3 linked regions of the Homo sapiens genome follow. The protein of the gene in region 2 interacts with the protein of the main gene of each other region in a pairwise test. Each region holds a gene or a part of one and is shown on either strand. Other genes may lie near its edges.

Region 1 (3,650 bases), on a different chromosome or scaffold from region 2:
TTCATTGATGTGGGGACATAAAATACAGTCAATACCTAAGGTAAAGAAATCTGTGTCAGAAAGGAAATGGAAATGCAATCTGAAAATACCTAATTGGATTTGATTTTTTTCCTCCCCTGAGAAATCTTACTTAGATTTATTACAGATACTTTTCCTCTATTTTATATCATACTTGTTTATTCTTACAATTTTCTCTTTGAAAATCAGCTTTATTTAGCAAAATCTGTACAAACCAAGTCTTTCTTATGACCCACAAGGCCCTCTCCATGTCCTGTCCAATGCTAAAACTGTGCACATAGTAGGTGCTCAGTAAAAATAATTATTTTCTCTCTTCTTCTGCTATTTGGATCTATGAGCACGTTGAATTTCTGTCCAGTGGTTCTACTGGGCATGACCAGATGTACATGGAAATGATGTGATGTGTGCTCAGCCATCCTTCCAATCACTCAAGAAGTATTCGTTAATCAGCATTTTACCATATGACTGGCGCTGTCCTAGCCAGTGGTGGAAAGGACAACGGTGAACAAGCCCCTGCCTCAAAGAGTTTAGGTGTCTTGAGTGACACAGGCAATAACAAATCACCTTGCGTTTGCCACTTATAATAGTGCACTATTATAATAAATATAATAATCCTCCTGTTATATGTGGGAAGTGCACAGTGCTGTCACAGGGGAGATAGCCAGCCCGGATGGGCAGTGCTGGAGTGAGAGAGGGAGGATCTTCTGGGACCAGGTTATCCCATTCACTGGCTACTTGACCTTCTGAAACCAGAGGTAACACTGTGTTGTATTTGTGTAGTGCCTGAGACATGGAGTCACCCAGTGCCTGTTACATTAATACAAATTCTAAAAAAGAAAATTAGTAAGCATCCTGCTGGTTAAACAGACATTGTTCCGAGACAATTCAACTTAATGAAGACCGACTGGGAAGTAACTGCTCAGAAACCCAAAGTTTATAGCATGGCTTTGAGAAAGTGGGAAGGAGCTCAATAACACCATAATTACACTTTATTGGAAACAGTGGCAACCAGGCAGATGAGATAATGAATTTCAGTGTGTCTAACACAGACCATCCACCCCTGGAGGAACCCTGTGTTTGGACTGTGGGAGGAAGAGATTGATTAGACAGTGAGGAAGGATTATATTCTAATTCACCGGGATTTCTCTTGGCAAGAGCATTTAAAAGTTTTTACGTACTTTGTACCCCCTTAGAAAGCTTCACATAATCTTTCATTTTGTGATGAAATGAAGAGTTTCTCTCTGAATTAGGTGACGTCCTGACAAAGCCTTGCAGGCAGGGCCTTTGGGATTTCCTGATGTGTCAACAAGAATACCATCCTCCTGGGATCAACATTCATAATTTCCAGAGAACTGGACTCTTATTTGCATATAGAATAGCCTCATGTCAGCCTGCCAGAGGGAGGAAGGGGCAGATGTGGTACCAGCATTTTGCTGAGATGGTTGTCAGTATTTATGGTTCCATGAAAGTAAAAATCAATAATGTTATGAGCCAAGTGGATGTCCCATTAGCTAAAAGCCAGGCTTCCTTCATAGAGTAAGGGAAATATGAAACATAGGAGCCTGTTTGCAAATTATTTCCTTATGTGTTATTGACCTTCATAGAGGCAAGATAGGCCGTTTTATTTAGAAATATTTTGCTTGGCATTATTCACAATAGCAAAGACTTGGAACCAACCCAAATGTCCAACAATGATAGACTGGATTAAGAAAATGTGGCACATATACACCATGGAATACTATGCAGCCATAAAAAATGATGAGTTCATGTCCTTTGTAGGGACATGGATGAAATTGGAAATCATCATTCTCAGTAAACTATCGCAAGAACAAAAAAGCAAACACCGCATATTCTCACTCATAGGTGGGAATTGAACAATGAGATCACATGGACACATGAAGGGGAATATCACACTCTGGGGACTGTGGTGGGGTGGGGGGAGGGGGGAGGGATAGCATTGGGAGATATACCTAAGGCTAGATGACGAGTTAGTGGGTGCAGCGCACCAGCATGGCACATGTATACATATGTAACTAACCTGCACAATGTGCACATGTACCCTAAAACTTAAAGTATAATAAAAAATAAATAAATAAATAAATAAAATAAATAAATAAAATAAAAAGAAATATTTTGCTCGACCCTAAAGCAGGAATAATCAGTGCATTTTCATATTGCCCCCTTAATTTTCTCATTTTTACAGCTACTAAATAGTTAAGGAGATTGCATGTGTGTTTTGGGGGTAGAAGGGAACATTAACTCTTTGTTTAGCCTTTTATGCTGTCTGTGATCTGGTTAGTTGATGCGGGGTTAATTGAGCAGCCAGGAAAAGGAGACTTCTTTAGGGACATGTACAGAAATTTGGGGATTGTGATAGCAGCAATGCTTTGACCATACTGAAATTCCAAATCTGCTTAGATGACTCTGTGACTGTACACTGTGAGCAATTTCCAGCTATCTTTGGAGCCAGAAATCAGTGATAACTACAGACATACCTTTCCTTGTGTGTGTATGTGTGTACACATGTGTGTGTCCCTCCATTTCTTTGGAAAGAAAAGCATTTTAGAATGCCTTCCTTGTTTTCCCTCGTTCCGTTCAAACATAAAATCCCTGTCTCCTCATTGTTCCTTTATAGACCCAGCTGTAAATAAGGATACTATAGCCCACCTAAGTTTCGTATTCAGTGCTCCCGGCTTGGCTCTTATCCTATCTATTGTTCTGAAATTCAGGGCTGCTTCTCCCTGTGCACACAAAGCGGGAGGAAAAAAACACCAGCCGGGCGTAGTGGCTCACGCCTGTAATCCTAGCCCTTTGGGAGGCCGAGATGGGTGGATCACCTGAGGTCAGGAGTTCGAGACCAGCCTGACCAACATGGAGAAACCCCATCTCTACTAAAAATACAAAATTAGCCGGGCCTGGTGGCGCATGCCCGTAATCCCAGCTACTCAGGAGGCTGAGGCAGGAGAATCACTTGAACCCAGGAGGTGGAGGTTGCAGTGAGCCGAGATCATGCCATTGCACTCCAGCCTGGGCAACAAGAGCAAAACTCCATCTCAAAAACAAAAACAAAAAACACTTACCAATTTGGTTTATTTTCCCCATCATTATCTATGTATCAGTTTAATTAAAATTCACCAGGTACCCATCGCTTTGTGCCATGCCCTGGACTTTCAGATATGACTGTAGCATGGGCCCTGTCTTTTGTTAAAGAATACTGTGGCGGTGAAATCATGACTGTCTTACAAATATAAAATGAACATGTGCCAATGATTTTATTTAACTCACTAATTAATAAGGAGACCAAGAAAATGTTAAAACTGTTTCGAAGGAGAATTCGCTTTATAAAGATTTACATTTTCTACTGAACAAAAATTAATTTGCATTGTTACAGAGACGAATTATTTGTATTGTTATCAGTTTGCCACAATTTATGTTCTACTCCTACAAAGTTGTAAAATAGCCTAGTCAGAGATTAGCCAAAGAATTAAAGTTTCCCACCCCCTGTAGAATTAGGTAATTCATGCCCAGCATTCCATAGAAAGGGTCTATAGTAATCTCTATGCCCATTTCCAAGTCTTGAACCCTTTTTATTTCCTGGATAGAAGTGACAGCTGTGGGGACAGGGATTTAAT
Region 2 (3,650 bases):
TTGTCTTCATGGACACCTAGTCCATTTCAGAAAAAGGACAGGTTAACAGACAAGACAAAAAGTATCATAGGTCAAGTAAGAGAGAGAATTCAAACTCAGACACTGGGGGTAGGGAAGGCATCCAGGAGCAACATCTCAGCTGATATTTGAATGATGTATCAGTGTGATGACAATTCAGAGATGATCTGAGGGGGCATCTAAAATCAGTTCAGCTTGGCTGGAAGATTAAGTGTACATATTGGCTAAATAAGTAAAGGCAGATTAGCTAGGAACGGATTATAAGAAATATTGAAAGTCAAGTTAAGATGTTTGGACTCTGACATTTTAATGGTAATGAGGAGTAATAGACATATTAAGCTGACGGTTTACACTGTCAGTTTTGCTCTTTAAAAATAATATTATACATGACCTCAAAATACAGAGAAAACATGAAGTCTGAGACCACCAATTCTGTTCTTCAAGACCTTTCTCTCACCAGTGCTGTTCTTCAAGATCTTATAGTATTATTTGCAGTCATCACTAACAAAAAGGGGATATATCCCAGTCATTAAATATTTCCATTTTGTAATCCGTTACATGGCATATTTGACATTTCCTGGAGATCTACAGACAAAAATCAAAGATTGCCAGGTTAGTTTGTTTTTATCATTAGCAATCCTAGATAGACGATATACGTCCTGCTGAAGTCATTCCATGCATAAGGGCTGTCTCATTAGTAAAGACCAGTTATGTACTTTCCAGGAGATGTGTCATTATTATTTTTTAAGAGATTTGACCAAGACACTTTTTTCCTTTGGAGGATAGTGGTGGACTTGCTGTTAACTCCTTACTTCTCAAATGGAAACAGGTACCAGACATTTATAATAGTCCAAGCCTTCACAAAGCTGCTTATTTTTCAGAGTTTATCAAAGACTAGGAGATAGTTGGAGGGATTCATGTTTGGAGTATTTCCAGGGTTATTTACAGAGAAACAACAACAACAAAATAAAACAAATAGATACAGGATATTTGTAAATATCCTTTATGCAAATAGATACAGGATATTTGGAATGATGGAGCAGAAACTGTAAGTGATAAAGAGAAGAAAGTGACAAAAAGTAACAGGCTAGTAGATAATATAAATAACTGAGGCCAACGGATTTGAGCCATTGGTTTGATTGTAGGAGAGGTATGTGGAATAACTGATGGGGAAGAAGGAAGAAGCGGGATTTTTTGGAAGAAAAGATTATGGCTCAGGATAATTCTTCAAAAGTGAAACCTTTATGGTGAAGGCAAGATTCAGTATTTGGTTACAAAAGTGGTTACAAAAGTCTGAAGTAACATAGAAGTAATGATCAATGACTACATGAACTTAGAGAATCAAGTAGATCACACACACCAACAATAAAATTACACAGAATGATAAAAGAATTTGAATGGAGAGTGAAACCATGAGGCAGGTGTTCAAATCTTCAGTTAAAGCAAGGGAATGGCCACAAGCTTAGAAATAGCATCAGATAGGAGAGGTATAGATTAGTTAGTTAAGTATCATAGGAATAGAATAGGGGTCTTTTTTTAATTATACTTCAAGTTTTAGGGTACATGTGCACAATGTGCAGGTTTGTTACATATGTATACATGTGCCATGTTGGTATCCTGCACCCATTAACTTGTCATTTACATTAGGTATATCTTCTAATGCTGTCCCTCCCCGCTCTCCCCACCCCACAACAGGCCCCAGTGTGTGATGTTCCCCTTCTTGTGTCCAGGTGTTCTCATTGTTCACTTCCCACCTATGAGTGAGAACATGAGGTGTTTGGTTTTTTGTTCTTGAGATAGTTTGCTGAGAATGATGGTTTCCAGTTTCATCCATGTCCCTACAAAGGACATGAACTCATTCTTTTTTATGGCTGCATAGTATTCTATGCTGTATATGTGCCACATTTTCTTAATCCAGTCTATCATTGTTGGATATTTGGGTTGGTTCCAAGTCTTTGCTATTGTGAATAGTGCCACAATAAACATACGTGTTCATGTGTCTTTATAGTAGCATGATTTATAATCCTTTGGGTATATACCCAGTAATGGGATGGCTGGGTCAAATGGTATTTCTAGTTCTAGATCCCTGAGGGATCGCCATACTGACTTCCACAATGGTTGAACTAGTTTACAGTCCCATCAACAGTGTAAAAGTGTTCCTATTTCTCCACATCCTCTCCAGCACCTGTTGTTTCCTGACTTTTTAATGATCACCATTCTAACTGGTGTGAGACGGTATCTCATTATGGTTTTGATTTGCATTTCTCTGATGGCCAGTGATGCTGAGCATTTTTTCATGTGTCTGTTGGCTGCATAAATGTCTTCTCTTGAGAAGTGTCTGTTCATATCCTTCACCCATTTTTGATGGGGTTGTTTGTTTTTTTCTTGTAAATTTGTTTGAGTTTTTTGTATATTCTGGATATTAGACCTTTGTCAGATAAGTAGATTGCAAAAATTTTCTCCCATTCTGTAGGTTGCCTTTTCACTCTGATGGTAGTTTCTTTTGCTGTGCAGAAGCTCTTTAGTTTAATTAGATCCCATTTGTCAATTTTGGCTTTGCAAGGACTTCATGTCTAAAACACCAAAAGCAATGGCAACAAAAAGAATAGGGGTCTTTAAAGTGCAAAATTTTTAAGACAGATTACAATCACAAGTGAATCATTGGGAAACTGGTAACTTTGACTCAAGAGAGATGCAGTGCAAGTCATATCTTCAGGAAAGAGCTAGATTTCCCTTGAGGACAAAAAAATGAGCATGTACAGTAAAAAGTTTGGGATATTGAATAAGATCTGCCAAAATAAAGAATATAAACTAATAGAAGTTTAGGGAAAGAGAGATCACTCTTTTTTTCTATCTGGGAAAATAAAAAGCCTCATGGAGGACCAGAAGGCAAGCTATAAAATACAGATAGCATTTTGAGAAACAGAAAACATTCAAGAAAGACAGACTAGAACAAAGAAGACAAGGGGTGAAAATTCTGAAGTAAATTAATGCATACAGTGGCAAAGGGTTCCATTCAGCTAATAGATGAAAAGAACTAGGAAGGGTTATAAGTAAGATTGGAAAAGTTCAATATGGCTAATGATGGATTTTATATGAAAAATGTTCACTTTTATTCTGCAGTTTTTAGAGGCTTTTACAAGAGGGCTATAAAACGAGAGCTATACATCTAAGAATAAGCTAGATTTCTACAACATTGTTAGAAAATGTCATCAGTAAGACAATTTAGTAGCTTTAGTTTAGTGGTATTCCATAAACAGTGGATACTCAACAGCATCCTTTCATGACATTGCTTAGGTGCCTGAGGGCCTAAGTAGAAGCCCATGAGGATACTGGACTTTACTTTCACAGATCTTTTCGTGTAACATTGAGTATCAGACCTAGAGTAGGCCACAGATGATCTAACACAAATCATTTGTTTAGTAAAGAAAACATTTAGGTCAAAAATTACTGTACTGTTTTTTCTTACTGCCAAAACTAGAAACTAAAACCACAGTTTTCTGAAAACTAATTCATTGGTATTTCTTCTGCATGTAAAATGGAAACTAACAAGGTGTTGGCAGAGGTTATATTTTCACCTCATAAAATGTTTTTTTCCTGTAATATTGAAAGTGAAGAGACCTCAGAACTAT
Region 3 (4,133 bases), on a different chromosome or scaffold from region 2:
CCAGGACACGCCCAGGAGTCCCGAGAAATGTGGGTTTCTCCTTTGGAGGGTCTGATTCTGGGAAGTGGGGAGCCAGGGCAAGGACTTCCGGCCCAGCCAGTGCGAGGGGCAGCGGCCTCCTTCCTCCTGCCAGACCCGACTCTCTAGCGTCGGGCACCCTTGCTCTGCCACCCAAAGGGGCAGAACCGGCGAGGGCGTTCTGGCCGTGCCCCTCCCCGAGCAGTGACCGCCAGTACGTTCGTGAAGGCCGGCGCGGGTTGCTCCTCTCTGCGCCCTCGGAGGCAGGTGGCCCTGCAAAGCCGCTGCCAGGTGCACCTCTCTCGGCCACCTCCAGGAAGGGCGCCCTCCTCCGGCACAGCCCGCCTCTTGCGTCTCTCACGGACTCTTCTCGCACCCCGCCCCCCATTCTGGGCACAGACTTGGAAGGAGGAAGGAGGGACCCCACCCTCGTGTGCTCTCCTCTGCGGAGAAGAGAGGGCTCCCGGCTGCCTCGGATCTCCCTCTGCGCCCCAGACGCGGAAAGTTTCCCATTCGCGATCCGCGTCTGCGCTCTTCCTTCATCCTGAGCAGCGGAGCTCCGAGGCCGCGCTGGCTGCACCGGCCCAGATGCGCTCACCCTCAGGCACGCCAACCCCCGCCTCCCGCAGCCCGCAGAGGCGGGCAAAGGGATTTGAGGCGTCAGGATGCCGGGTCAGCTCTCTGCAGCCGGGCAGCCAGAAGAACCCTGCTCCCGGGTTCCAGGGAGAGCTCGCAGGGTGGGGTCCTGACGGAGCCAGGGTTTCCCAACAAGCCCTTCTCATCAGTCCTCTCCTTCACCCTGCCGCGTCTCTCTGTTCTGCGCATTCCCAGGGAAAGGGGTGCTTACCTTAGGTCCCCAGCCTCCAACCCCCGCCCCCTGCAATGTCCAGGTGAGGGCTCCAGTGCCTTTCAACAAACCCCAGTGCCCTCTCGGCGGCGCTGGAACGAGGACCTCCCCCATGTAACCTTTCCCTCTAGAGCCCTCCTCCCAAAGTTGAGGGGGGACATTTTGATCCACTTAGGAAAGTCTCTTGTTCCAAGGGTAGGGGAACAAAGTACAGGGTTTGCATTCCTTCTGGGTTACACCAACCCCTCCCCCCTCGCTGTCAGGACCACCTTCCGGGCTCAAATTCTGCAGCTTCTCCCATCAGCAGACCCAGCACTCCCCAAGGACTTCGGGGTAGAAGGAGTTGGGGTTATTTTTAAGGGGGCACCCCTTCCTGGCAGGCACTCTCAGAGCCTAGGTAGGCACCTCCTGCTGGGACAAGGCTATGGCATAGGACAGAGGTGATGCCCACCTCTATCATCCAGTGGGGCTCGGGGTCGAGACCTTATTGATCATAAAGACGACTTTTTGGCACCTCGCGTCCCGCTCCCCTCCGAGGCGGAGCCAGGCTCTGACTCCAGCCAGGCTGAGGTTGGCACCAGGCTCCGAGGAGGATCCCGGACGCGGAGCCTGTAGTCTCGGTGCCTGCGGCTCTTCGCTGGTCCCGCCTCCCTCCCTCCTGGCTTTTAGCCTCACGTTGGCTCTCTGCTCACTGCGCGAAAGGGTTCAGCTCCATTTAAGACCCACTACGCGGCGGCACTGGGTGGGAGGCCGGCCGCGGACCCTGGGGCTGCGGAGCCACCTCTCACTGGCTCCGGAGAACCCGCTCGGCTTCAACCTCCTTCTAGCTGTCTTAGCCTAACCCGGGAGCAAGTCCACACGGCGGGACACACACACACACACACACACACACACACTGAGCTGCTCACAACTCCCCAGCCCCGGAAGCGTCCATACCTCCCTGCACACGATAACCACACGCTCCATGGCACGCATACACACACTCCCAGCCCCATGAAGCCCACGACTCCCAGGCACCTGCACCCCCACCCATCCCACATAAGCAGACTCTTGTCCAGTGTCACAGTCCCATCTCCTGTGCACACAGAAATAGTAATCCGCTGTCGTACACCCCTAGAGACCTGCACACTCGGGACACACGTGAAACGCCAAACCTCACATACCCACCCCCTAACACCTCACACCCACAGTGACACAAGCTCACACACTTCACACCCTCACAGGGAAGGTGGCACATGTTCACACCCTCCCCCCAACATTCGCTCACACTCTCACACACACACCTTCTCCATGTAACTGACACAGACACTCTAACACCCATCCAGACCCTCGCTCACTCACACGCAGACCCCACACCATCACACACACACGCACACACACACTTGCATCTCTAAATACACTCCCGCACCTTCTGCCCACACAGCTCCTTCCCGGACACCCTCACCCAGACACACAACAAAGACACACAATTTACACACACACACACACCCTGGCACAAATCCATGAGCGCTCTCCAAGAGGCGTCCTCCCTCCCTCATCGAGCCAACCAGCTCCACAGACCCCGGGCAGGACCGGTGCTCGTAGCCCGAGCCTCTCGGAGCGACCCCGGCCAGCGCCCTCCCCCGGCACCCCGTCCCCGCGCACGTTCACCGCTCGGCTCCCGCCAGGCGCCCGCGCACTCACCGCGCGCCAGGTCCAGGATCGCGGCGAGCAGCAGGCAGACGCAGCGGCGGAGGCTCGGGGCGGTTCGCATGGTGCCCGGGAGCTGGCGGCGGTGGCGGGGCGGCGGGGGTGGAGGCGGTGGCGGCGGGTCCCCTCGCCATGGGCTCAGACGCGCTCCTGCCTCCGGCCACTGGCCGAGGCGGTGGCGGGCAGCGCGGAGAGCCGCGGGGGCGCCCCCATGCCGCCGCGGCCAGGCAGCCCGGGCGCCCGGCTCGACTCGGCTCCGGCTCTGCGAGGCGCAGCGACCCTCGCGCTCTGGGCGTCCTCGGGGCTCGCCGCGGTTCTCGGCTCCCTAGCTGCGCGCGGTGCCCACCGCGGCCCAGAGTCCGATCGGCTGCAGCGCCGGAGTTTGGAGCCGAATCGCGCTCTCTGCCTCGCGCTCGCCTCTCCCGGCGGCGCGAGCACCCCCCTCCTCTCGCCCTCCCTCCGTCCCTCCCCCTCTCCCCGCCCCCCCGCCCTCCTTGCCCTCCCCTCGCCGCGCTCTCCGCGTATTATACAGACTTTTCTTTAATCCTTTCTGGGCTGTTCGGCTCTCGTCCGCTAAGCCGATTTATTGCAGGGAGAAGGAGAGCTCACCCCCTCCTAACCTCCCCTCTCCCCTCACTCAGGTCCCCCCTCACTCAAAACTGGCTTGCTGCCTCCAGCTTCTTAACCCTTACCCAGGTGACCCAACACCCCGCCCTGGAAGCTATGCTCCATCGGATCCGCCTTTACCTAGCCCCTCCTATCCCCGGGATTACCATCGCCCTCCCCGCTACTCAGCCTGATGAAAGGAGGCAGCCTCCCTCCCGAGAGGGAAAGATGCCATCCTGGGAGCAGGGCAGGCAGGGTGTGGCTCTGGAGTTCTGACCTTGCCAACGATGAATGCCCTCATTGGGCAAGATTAAGGGGTTTCCATGTTCTGAAACTTCCCCAATTACGGCTGCTCCTTCCCCCAGGGACCCACGGAAATGGGGTGTGTTCTGTCTTTTTCCCATGTGCTAGGATCCAGCCAGGAAGGGTGAGGAACTGATTGTTTCCTCCTGGCAGAGACCAAGTTTCCACCTTTTTGCCAGACCTGACAGCTTTTCTTCCCAGGTCCGAGAAGAACAGGTTTGGGACTTGTATGTTACCATTACTCTCCCACCAACACACACGCGAGCACACACACACACACACACACACACACACACACACCATTGAGCCTCAGCCCTGGCGGTGGACTTTGAGGCCTCCTGCGAGGATGAAGGGGAGGGGTACTCTAGCCCTTGGAGTGGACTGGGGATGTGGTTAGATGAGGAAGTTCAGGAGATAGAATTTCACCATTGGTAGGGACCCAGAAGATTGGCAAAGCCCAGAAAAACCAGCACGACCAGGGGCAAAACCTGCTCAGAACTCAGGTGGGTCCCTTTACCCAGGCCTTCTATGGAGAATCTCCAGCTTCCCTAGCTCTGGCAGGTTGCTGAGTCAGGCTGTTGCATCGTTTACCTACATGGGCAATGGGTCTATAGCCAGTTCCATCTCCAGCAGCCCTCTGAGAGGAGTGTAGGGAGTGGGGTGGGCAATG

The links.
Region 1: the proteins of SULT1E1 (region 2) and ENOX1 interact in a two-hybrid assay, tested with the Homo sapiens proteins (one large-scale study listed by BioGRID and IntAct).
Region 3: the proteins of SULT1E1 (region 2) and IGSF21 interact in a two-hybrid assay, tested with the Homo sapiens proteins (one large-scale study listed by BioGRID and IntAct).

The regions. Positions count from the first base shown.
Region 1 is NC_000013.11:43,349,886-43,353,535, reverse strand, and holds part of ENOX1 (ecto-NOX disulfide-thiol exchanger 1), read left to right. Parts: intron 1-3,650. UniProt on the Homo sapiens protein: Probably acts as a terminal oxidase of plasma electron transport from cytosolic NAD(P)H via hydroquinones to acceptors at the cell surface.
Region 2 is NC_000004.12:69,850,031-69,853,680, reverse strand, and holds part of SULT1E1 (sulfotransferase 1E1), read left to right. Parts: intron 1-3,650. UniProt on the Homo sapiens protein: Sulfotransferase that utilizes 3'-phospho-5'-adenylyl sulfate (PAPS) as sulfonate donor to catalyze the sulfate conjugation of estradiol and estrone. Is a key enzyme in estrogen homeostasis, the sulfation of estrogens leads to their inactivation.
Region 3 is NC_000001.11:18,106,614-18,110,746, reverse strand, and holds the start of IGSF21 (immunoglobulin superfamily member 21 precursor), read right to left. Parts: upstream 2,950-4,133; 5' UTR 2,619-2,949; coding exon 2,549-2,618; intron 1-2,548. UniProt on the Homo sapiens protein: Involved in synaptic inhibition in the brain. Selectively regulates inhibitory presynaptic differentiation through interacting with presynaptic NRXN2.